Linked DNA regions of Homo sapiens: region 1 is linked to region 2. Evidence: fine-mapped expression QTL. Tissue or cell type: tibial nerve. Region 2 holds a variant in brackets; the other region holds the start of a gene. All regions are shown on one strand. Distances are between the middles of the regions.

Evidence for each region. PIP is the estimated chance that this variant, and not a neighbour inherited with it, causes the effect. A credible set is the group of variants that fine-mapping cannot tell apart.
Region 1: LMOD1 starts here. The variant in region 2 is the best candidate, but not a certain one, in a credible set for the expression of LMOD1 in tibial nerve (GTEx, PIP 0.63).

The regions. Positions count from the first base shown.
Region 1 is chr1:201,943,923-201,948,308 of GRCh38, reverse strand. It overlaps LMOD1 (leiomodin 1), which reads left to right and starts at 1,761. Exons shown (of 3, transcript NM_012134.3): 1 at 1,761-2,229. The coding sequence starts at 1,969.
Region 2 is chr1:201,917,726-201,922,111 of GRCh38, reverse strand. The region is part of intron 1 of LMOD1 (leiomodin 1); the gene reads left to right. Among named protein-coding and RNA genes, the nearest start is that of LMOD1, 27 kb to the left of the region's middle. The variant C/T (reference allele first, on the strand shown) is at 1,809.

The DNA of each region.
Region 1 (4,386 bases), 26 kb before region 2:
GAGTACAGTAGCGTGATCACAGCTCACTGCAGCCTCAACCTTCTGGTCTCAAGCAATCCTCCCACCTCAACCCCCTGAGTAGCTGGGACAACAGATGCTCACCACCACATCAGGCTAATTTTGTTTTTTTTTTTTTTTTGGAGAGATGGGGGTCTCATTATGTTGCCCAGCCTGTTCTTGAACTCCTGGACTCAAGCAATCCTCTTGCCTTGGCCTCCCAAAGTGCTGGGATTACAGACATGAGCCACTGCACCTGGCCTGATTTTGTATCTTTAGTGATATCTCTTGCTCTTAGAACAATGCCTGATATATAATAGGCACTTGATAAATCACTCAATAAATATATACCTACGGTTTGACCAATAAGTTGGCTACTGACTCTTAAAATGACAACCCCCAGGTTTCCCTAAAGTCTTCTTCCACTCTTCCTATCAAGTCTGCCTGCCTTCCTTCTGCCCTTCAGTCCCCCCAGTGGACACCATTCCCCTCTTCAGCCTTAACCTAAAGTTGGACTAGTGGACATTAAATGGCACGGCCAAGTTTTAGTCCCAGACGATCCCTGGACTCAGCAAATGCTGATCAAGTGACTGTCTCTCTCTGGCTTAGGATGGAAAGATGCCAGGAAAGATCGAAGCATCTACCCTGATGGGTTACACCAGGGCTTCTAGAAGGGATTTTGTGGCAGGAGGAAGGGGGGCAGGGGATTGAATGTCTCTGTGACTTGTGCAGGGCAGCATGATGGATGAGCAGTGGAAAGCCCTTCTATGAAACATGCCAGACCTGTTGCAATCGTATCTCTCCCGACGGCCCAGAATTCTGTTTCCCTGAAGACATACTAAATCGTGCTCTGGATTTATATGTGGGTGGTGACCTGCCTCTGTGCTCCCAAAGGAGGTCTGTCTACAGATGCCCGGCAGAGGAAGAAACAGATGACAACAGGGGGAGGTTTGAACCCTCTTCCCAAGAGCCTTGGAACTTCATGGAAAGTGACAGCCCTTTAAGAGTTTCCCGACTTCTGCAGATCCTTCTCTCTTTCCCAAACAGCCTGCCAGTTTTCAGTTTTGGTACACAGTAAGGATTTATTCTCTCTCTCTCTCTCTCTCTCTCTCTCTCTCTCTCTCTCTCTCCCTCTCCTGCCTAGCTATCTCTATCTCTAAGTTTGTCTTTCTGTCTCCTGTCTCTCTCTTAAGAAGTGGCCAAAGGATCCTGGAGCCTCTGATGCTCAGCCTTCAGGTCCTCCTTGGCAGAACCTGGGTAGAAAGAAAATGGGTAGGCAGGGGGTTAGGAGTAACAGCTCCTCATCTTGAATCTAGACTTTCCTGGAGCTGTATACACCTGGGAGCCCCCCAGCACATTACCAAATACTGTAGAAGGAAGTCCATGAACCACACATTGACCACAGTGATACGTCCACCCGGTGATGGAGTAGTAAAATACGCTCTTGAACGTGCCCCGGGCTGGCGAGTTCACCGGCCCTCATGGCCTCGTCCCTGCTTGTCTGGCTCTCCGTGGCTGTGATCTGCTTCTGCCAGCCTACGCATTTTTGTATCTTTTTCTCATTGCGTGGCCCCTTGTCTTTAAAAGGCTAAACTGCTCTGTACTAAATTTGGTCACGCAGCGCTCCAAGATTCCCTGGAATGTCCTCAAGTTTCAAACAGCTCTGACAGCGAGGTAGGCCCGCCCCCAGCTTGGGGATTGGCTTCTCCTCTCCGGGCCTGGCAGTTGTCGGGTCTTATTGGCCGCTGATTAGACCAGCCGGGGTCCACTAGCCCTGGGCTTCAGGGAGGCTGCTGCGTCCAGTGAACACTTCAGCACCTGTAGCACAGAAGGGCCAAGGAGCTGCAGTCCTCGACCAGCAGGAGGTTTGCTCCTCAGCCCACTCGCTGCATCCAGATCAGCTCACCCCTCTCCCTTCCCTGCCCACCAGGACTCTGATAGCCCCTGGCAGCCACAGCCCATTTTGCCAAGATGTCTAGAGTAGCCAAATATCGCCGGCAGGTGAGTGAAGACCCCGACATCGACAGCCTGCTGGAGACCCTGTCTCCCGAGGAGATGGAGGAGCTGGAGAAGGAGCTGGACGTGGTGGACCCAGACGGGAGTGTTCCCGTGGGGCTGCGGCAGAGAAACCAGACGGAGAAACAGTCCACGGGTGTGTACAACCGGGAGGCCATGCTCAACTTCTGTGAAAAGGAGACCAAGAAACTTATGCAGAGGGAGATGTCCATGGATGTGAGTGAGCACAGCCCTGGAGGGGAGGAGGGAGACAGGGGAGGGCTGGAGACCCTGGCTTCATGATTAGGATGCTTCCTTCCTTAGAAGAAACGTTCTTGTTGGCAAAGGATTTTAATGCTTCAGAACTGATGATTATCCACTGAACTAGCGGTGCGAATCTCTTACTCCTAATTTCTGTTTTATAAGCAGAAGTCGGATATGTTGGAGGAACACAACATCCCACAAAATCAAATAGAGCTACTAGTAGAATGGGAGCTGGAAGGTGTCCTTGAAGAGTCCATTGTCAAGTTGACTCCATCCTGGTCCCACAATACCTTTGTTTTTCTCCACACTCATTCCATCCTATTGTGAGGAGGGGTAAAAAGAGAGAGTGATACTTTATGTCTCCTGTCAGCCACCCAAAAAGACAAAGCTAAGCCATTTTTTGTGGGAGAATAACTCATTTTCAAGTCCCCAACCCTATGGGCATCTCACGGCACATGGATCATTTCAGGAGGCTTGGGGGTAAATGAGTTTCCCAAAGCAAAGGGAGACAGGGACCAGGAGTCTATGGGCTGGGAAATGTGGCTTAAAGACCTGATAAGCTTCAAATTTATTCCCAGGGAAGATGTTTTTTGTTGTGGTTAGTTGGTTTTTGGTTTTGTTTTGTTTTTGCACTCTCCAGAGGAGCCTCTGGAGGGAGCATGCCCTCTTTTTGGTAATTAACCCTTTAGCAGCTGGCGAGGCCGCTTTGCTGGGGGTTGAAGATAGTCATAGAGGAGGGAAAAGGGGTGACGGTTTTGGAAGCATCTGCCCACACCTACAATGGGCTTAAGCACAACTTGCTTTCTGTTTTCCTGAGTTGGCATGGAGGAATTTTTTTTTTGTCACTATTGCATTGGTATGTGAGTTTTCTTTGGACAAACTAGCCTCCGATGAAGTATGACTTTGTGGGATACCTTTGTCCATGGGAAAGAGTGTTGCATAGGAAAATTGTTCAAGTCTTTGTTCTAGTTCTCTTATTCAGCCACATCTCTTGTACATTATCCATTACTTGTGAATTCTTGCAAGAAAAAGATCAGTCTCAATTCTTGCTTTTTGTTTTACTTCTATGGAAACTGAGGCACAGAGCTTCAAATGACATGCACATTCTCACAGAGGAACTGAGAATGGGAACATTATCATCCAAAATGCCTGCGGAATGACTGGCTGGGTATGAAATTGTGTTGACTGCTAGTCACAGAGCATATTGGTGGACACAGCCCTGACTCCTTTAGTGTAGCAATGGGAAAGAAGGGAGGAGGAGGGAAGGGGGTGAAGCAAAGAGGAGCTGGAACTCTGTCTCTGTCCCTACCGCCCCCCCCCGCCCCACCACCTATGTTTAAGCCTTTGCCAAGAAGAGGGAGAAGGAGGGAGGAAGGAGGGAAGCCAGGAGGCTCAGGAATTTATTGTCCTGTATGCACAAGGTGGTTGCCCCAGATGCAGCTATGATAATGATAAATAAAACCAAAACATTTACAGAAAAAGTGGTAGCACTTACTGTGAGGGCCCGGTACCCCAACACAGCTATCAGGAATCATACAGAAAGAAATGAAATGCAGCCAAAGGCTTTGGCACCCTTGGAAATCGTTGACTCTGCTCTTCCCCACTCCCAGTCGCAGGCTCTGGGCCCATGACTGCCTTGTGTCCGGTAGCTTCCAGTGCTCAGAAAGGTACTCCTGAGGCTGAAGTCAAACAAAGCAGTCTAATCACAAGCAAGAGTGTGAAGGATTCTCCTGTTCCTGGAAATTTCACTATCATAGACTTTTTATTCAGCCAGTTAATACCGTGACAAGTGTCTCCTCCCCTGCCTCACCTCTCTCACCCCTGCCAGGTCCACACTTGGTTCTGCGGACAGAGCCCGAGTCAAGAAATAGAAGTGGTGTGTGTGTTTGTGTGTACATCCTTGATGTAAGGAGATGCCTTTAGGTCCGGTTTTCCCTTGTGGATGTAGGCTGTTCTGATCCCCTCACTCTTCCTCACCCTGTCCAGGGACGTACATTGGCATAATGGCTGGCTGGAGTTCGGGGTGCATGCTGAGCCTGGGCAGAAGTCATCTCTGTAAATCTGGGTGAGAATGAACCCTAGAAGGTGGCTTCTTTGGCACCATTAACAAAATAGTGAGTGTGTGGCCAA
Region 2 (4,386 bases):
CACATCCTTGTCCACACTTATTATTGTCTGTCTTTTTGATTATAGACACCCAATAGGTGTGAAGTATATCTCATCACGGTTTTGCCAATCTCAAAGGGCATGGATTTTGTTTCATTAAATAATGTGGTGATTTTCTTTTTCTTTTTTTTTTTGAGATGGAATCTCACTCTGTCGCCCAGGCTGGAGTGCACTGGCATGATCTCAGCTCACTGCAAGCTCTGCCTCCCGGGTTCACGCCATTCTCCTGCCTCAGCCTCCCGAGCAGCTGGGACTACAGGCGCCCACCACCACGCCTGGCTAATTTTTTGTATTTTTAGTAGAGATGGGGTTTCACTGTGTTAGCCAGGATGGTCTCGATCTCCTGACCTCGTGATCCGCCCGCCTCAGCCTCCCAAAGTGCTGGGATTATAGGCATGAGCCACTGCATCCGGCCATAATGCGGTGATTTTCTTGACCTATTCTGTAAGTCCCTTTCCTCTTCCTGATAACTCACTTTTCAGAGTCACCATATTTACTCCCGTGGTTTTCATTGCTACGTATACACCAATGACTCCCAAACCTACCTGTCAAGCCTAGATCTCCTTTCTGAGCCCCAGATCTTTTTTTTTTTTTTTTTTTTTTTTTGAGATGGAGTCTCACTCTGTCGCCCAGGCTGGAGGGCAGTGGTGCAATCTCAGCTCACTGCAACCTCCACCTCCTGGGGTCAAGCAGTTCTCCAACCTCAGCCTCACGAGTAGCTGGGACTGCAGGCTCGCACCACCATGCCCAGCTAATTTTTGTATTTTTAGTAGAGATGGGGTTTCACTATGCTGGCCAGGCTAGCCTCGAACTCCTGACCTCGTGATCTGCCCGCCTCAGCCTCCCAAAGTGCTGGGATTACAGGTGTGAGCCACTGCGCCCAGCCCAGATCTTTATTAATGCCAACCTGTTAGGCATTTAAATTTTGTCATGGCCAAAACAGTTGATCATCTCAAGTGCCACCCTCATCTCCCCGCTCCATATTCCCCGCCATGGTTATAAGCATCACTCTCTAACCAGGCAACCAAACTGGAAATCAGGGAGTCATCCTCCACTTCTCCTCGGCATTGTCCACTTCACTGAATCTTATTAACTGTACCCTAGAAATGTCCATGGAATGCATCTCCACTCCTCTGTGTTCACTGCTCAGCCTGGTCCAAGATCTCATCATTTCCTTTCTTTTTTTCTCTTCTTTCTTACTTTTTTATTTATTTATTTATTTTTATTTTTAGAAACAGGGTCACACTATGTTGCCCAGGCTGGTCTCAAACTCCTGGGCTCAAGCAAGCCTCCTGCCTTGGCTTCCCAAAGTGCTGAGATTACAGGCGTGAGCCACCGCGCCCAGCCTCCCACCCCCTATTCTATATTCGCTGGGTCCTGCACTGTGTAGAGGCCACTTGGCCTCCTTGATTTAATGGCTTGACATCCTTGTTTGCTCCCTGTCTTCCCAGTAGGTCTTGGCTTTTCTTTCTCCCTTCCAGTAGAATATCCAGACCCACCTCCTAATTGTCCTTGAGCTTAAAGACTCAGCTTACTCCTCAGCTATTTCTCAACTATGATTGACTTCCTCAGCAAGCAAGTGGAATTCTGGTCTCTGTGGCCTTGGCATAGGAAAAACCGGTGTCTCCAAGGGCCTCAGCTGCTAAAAGGGAGCTGCATTTAGGAGTTGTATTGACCCTGTAGCATGATGTCTTTCCAGAACAATTCACAAGGCCTGGGAAAGTATGTCATTTTACTGGGGTAGTAATCCCCAGTCAGAGAGTCAATGGTGGGTGGGAGGCTGAGGCGGG[C/T]GGATCGTCTGAGGTCAGGAGTTCAAGACCAGCCTGGCCAACATGGAGAAACCCTGTCTCTGCTAAAAATACAAAAATTAACCAGGCGTGGTGGTGGGTGCCTGTAATCCCAGCTACTTGGGAGGCTGAGGCAGGAGAATCACTTGAACCCCGGAGGTTGAGGTTGCAGTGAGCCAAGATCATGCCATTGCACCCCAGCTGCCTGGGTGACAAGAACAAAACTTGGTCTCAAAAAAAAAAAAAAAAAAAAAAAAAAAAGAGAGAGAGCCAGTGGCGGGTGGAGATGGCATTGAAGCCAATATATTCCTTCTACTCTTTGAAGTCCTGGGCTCTTCTGGAGACTTTAGGAAGACACTGAAAAAGGCTGCTTACAATAGTTTAGTGGCCAGGATGGAGAGATGTGGACTGGAAGGTGATGCAGGTGGATGCTGATTGGTGGCTCCCTGGAGGCCTGTAGTAGGATACCAGAGAGTTCTGCCCTGGAGTCTGCCCTGGTTAGTGGACAAAAAGATCCAGAAGGCACATGTACCACACTGGCAGATTATCTGAAGCTGAGAGTCACAGTGAGCTTTTAAACAGCAGAACCAGGATTTAGAAAATTCTAGTCAGGCTGGAATGGCAGGCTTAGTCTAACAGATGAACTTTTCTAGCCCACAGAAAAGCAGCCTCAGGGAGAGGACCCAATACCTACAGAGCACTCACATAGAAGAGAAGGGGTCACCTTGCTTTATACAGTCCCTGGGAATAACAGGACCAAATGGGCTTTCTGACACAGAGTCAGGTTAAAAAAGAAGAAAAGGGGCCAGGCGTGGTGGCTCATGCCTGTAATCCCAGCACTTTGGGAGGCCAAGGCAGGCAGATCACCTGAGGTCAGGAGTTTGAGACCAGCCTGGCCAACATGGTGAAACCCCGTCTCTACTAAAAATACAAAATCAGCCGGGCATGGTGGTGGGCACCTGTAATCCCAGCTACTTGGGAGGCTGAGGCAGGAAAATTGCTTGAACCCAGGAGGCGGAGGTTGCAGTGAGTACCACTGCACTCCAGCCTGGGTGAAGGACTGAGGCTCTGACCCCCCAAAAAAAAAAAAGTTTCTGTCTTTTAGAGATACACACTGAGGCCAGGCATGGTGGCTCACACCTGTAATCCCAGCAAAAGTGAGGCCAAGGCGGGAGGATTGCTTGAGGCCAGGAGTTTGAGACCAGCCTGAGCAACATAGCAAGACCCCAGATCTACAAAAATAAAAGTTAGCCAGGCATGGTGGCACATGCCTGTAGTCCTAGATACTCGGAAAGCTGAGGCAGGAGGATCACTTGAGCCCAGGAGTTTGAGGTTATAGTGAGCTATGATCATACCACTACACTCCAGCCTGGGTGACAGAGTGAGACCCTGTCCCTAAAAAAGAAATAGAGTACACACTGAAATATGTATGCATGAAATGATACACCTGGAATTTGCTTTCAAATAATGTGAGATTGTGACAAAAATGGGTGGGCATCAGATGAAACAAGATTGGCCATATGTAGAGAATCGCTGAAGCTGGGCAATGGGTACCTTGAGGTTCATTGTGCTGTTCTCTCTAGTTTGTTGTACAGTCGAACTTTTCCACATATAAAGTTAAAAAGAAGGAGGAGGAACAAAAGAAGAAGTGTTAGCCAGGCAGAGAAGAAAGCGAGAGGACATCCTGTGTGGCAGGAGCAGCATGCATAGGCAACAAGACCCAAGAGAGCCCAGCATGGGGTAGGGCAGCAAGACCCAAGAGAGCCCAGCGTGGCTGTTCCTCACTGTAACCAGAGTGCAGGCAGGAAGGGGAGGGCGCACAGAGGCAGGCACAGGCCAGGTCACGGAGGGCTTTGTTGCCATGCTACAAAGTCTGCACTTCATCCTGAAAGCATGGGAGCCATGGATCAGAATCACATTTTGAAAGGTCTTTCTGGAGACAGAGTGCACTCAAAGAGAAGGAAGACAGGAGGCAGGGGGTTCAGTGGGGAGGCAAGAGATGATGGAGGCCGCAAACACAGCAATGGTGAGGGGATGTGAGGAAGCTAATCTCAGCTATGTTAGGAAGGTGGGATGAAGGGAACGTGGTGAGGGAAAAAGGAAGCGTCAAGGCTGATGTCCCAGTGTCTGTGGGGTGGGAGAGCCATTCCTGAAGAGGGAGAAGGCGGGAAGACAGAGAGCTGCACCATCCCTGATCCCTGGCCTCTTAGGCCTAGGACTGGCTACAGAATTTGCAGGGCTTAGCGCAAAATGAAAATGTGCTCAAGAATTACTAAAACTTTCAAGACGATGACAGCAGAGAATTAAACCAAGCGTAGGGCCCTCTGAGCATGGGGCCCTGGAGCACTGCAGAGGTCAGACACCATAAAGCTGCTCCTGCTTTAGCCAATGTACCCTTTTCTGTTTAGAAGGAACAGGAGAGGGGCTGTATGAAAGCCAGGCCTCCTGCTCACAGCCCCAGGCAGTAAAAGAACAGTATGTTCCTTCTGCCACCCTCCGGGACCTAAGTGGGACCCAGAAGCCTGGGACAAATAGCTTGCATTTGTGTAGATCTTTACAACATTTCCCAGACTTGCTTGGG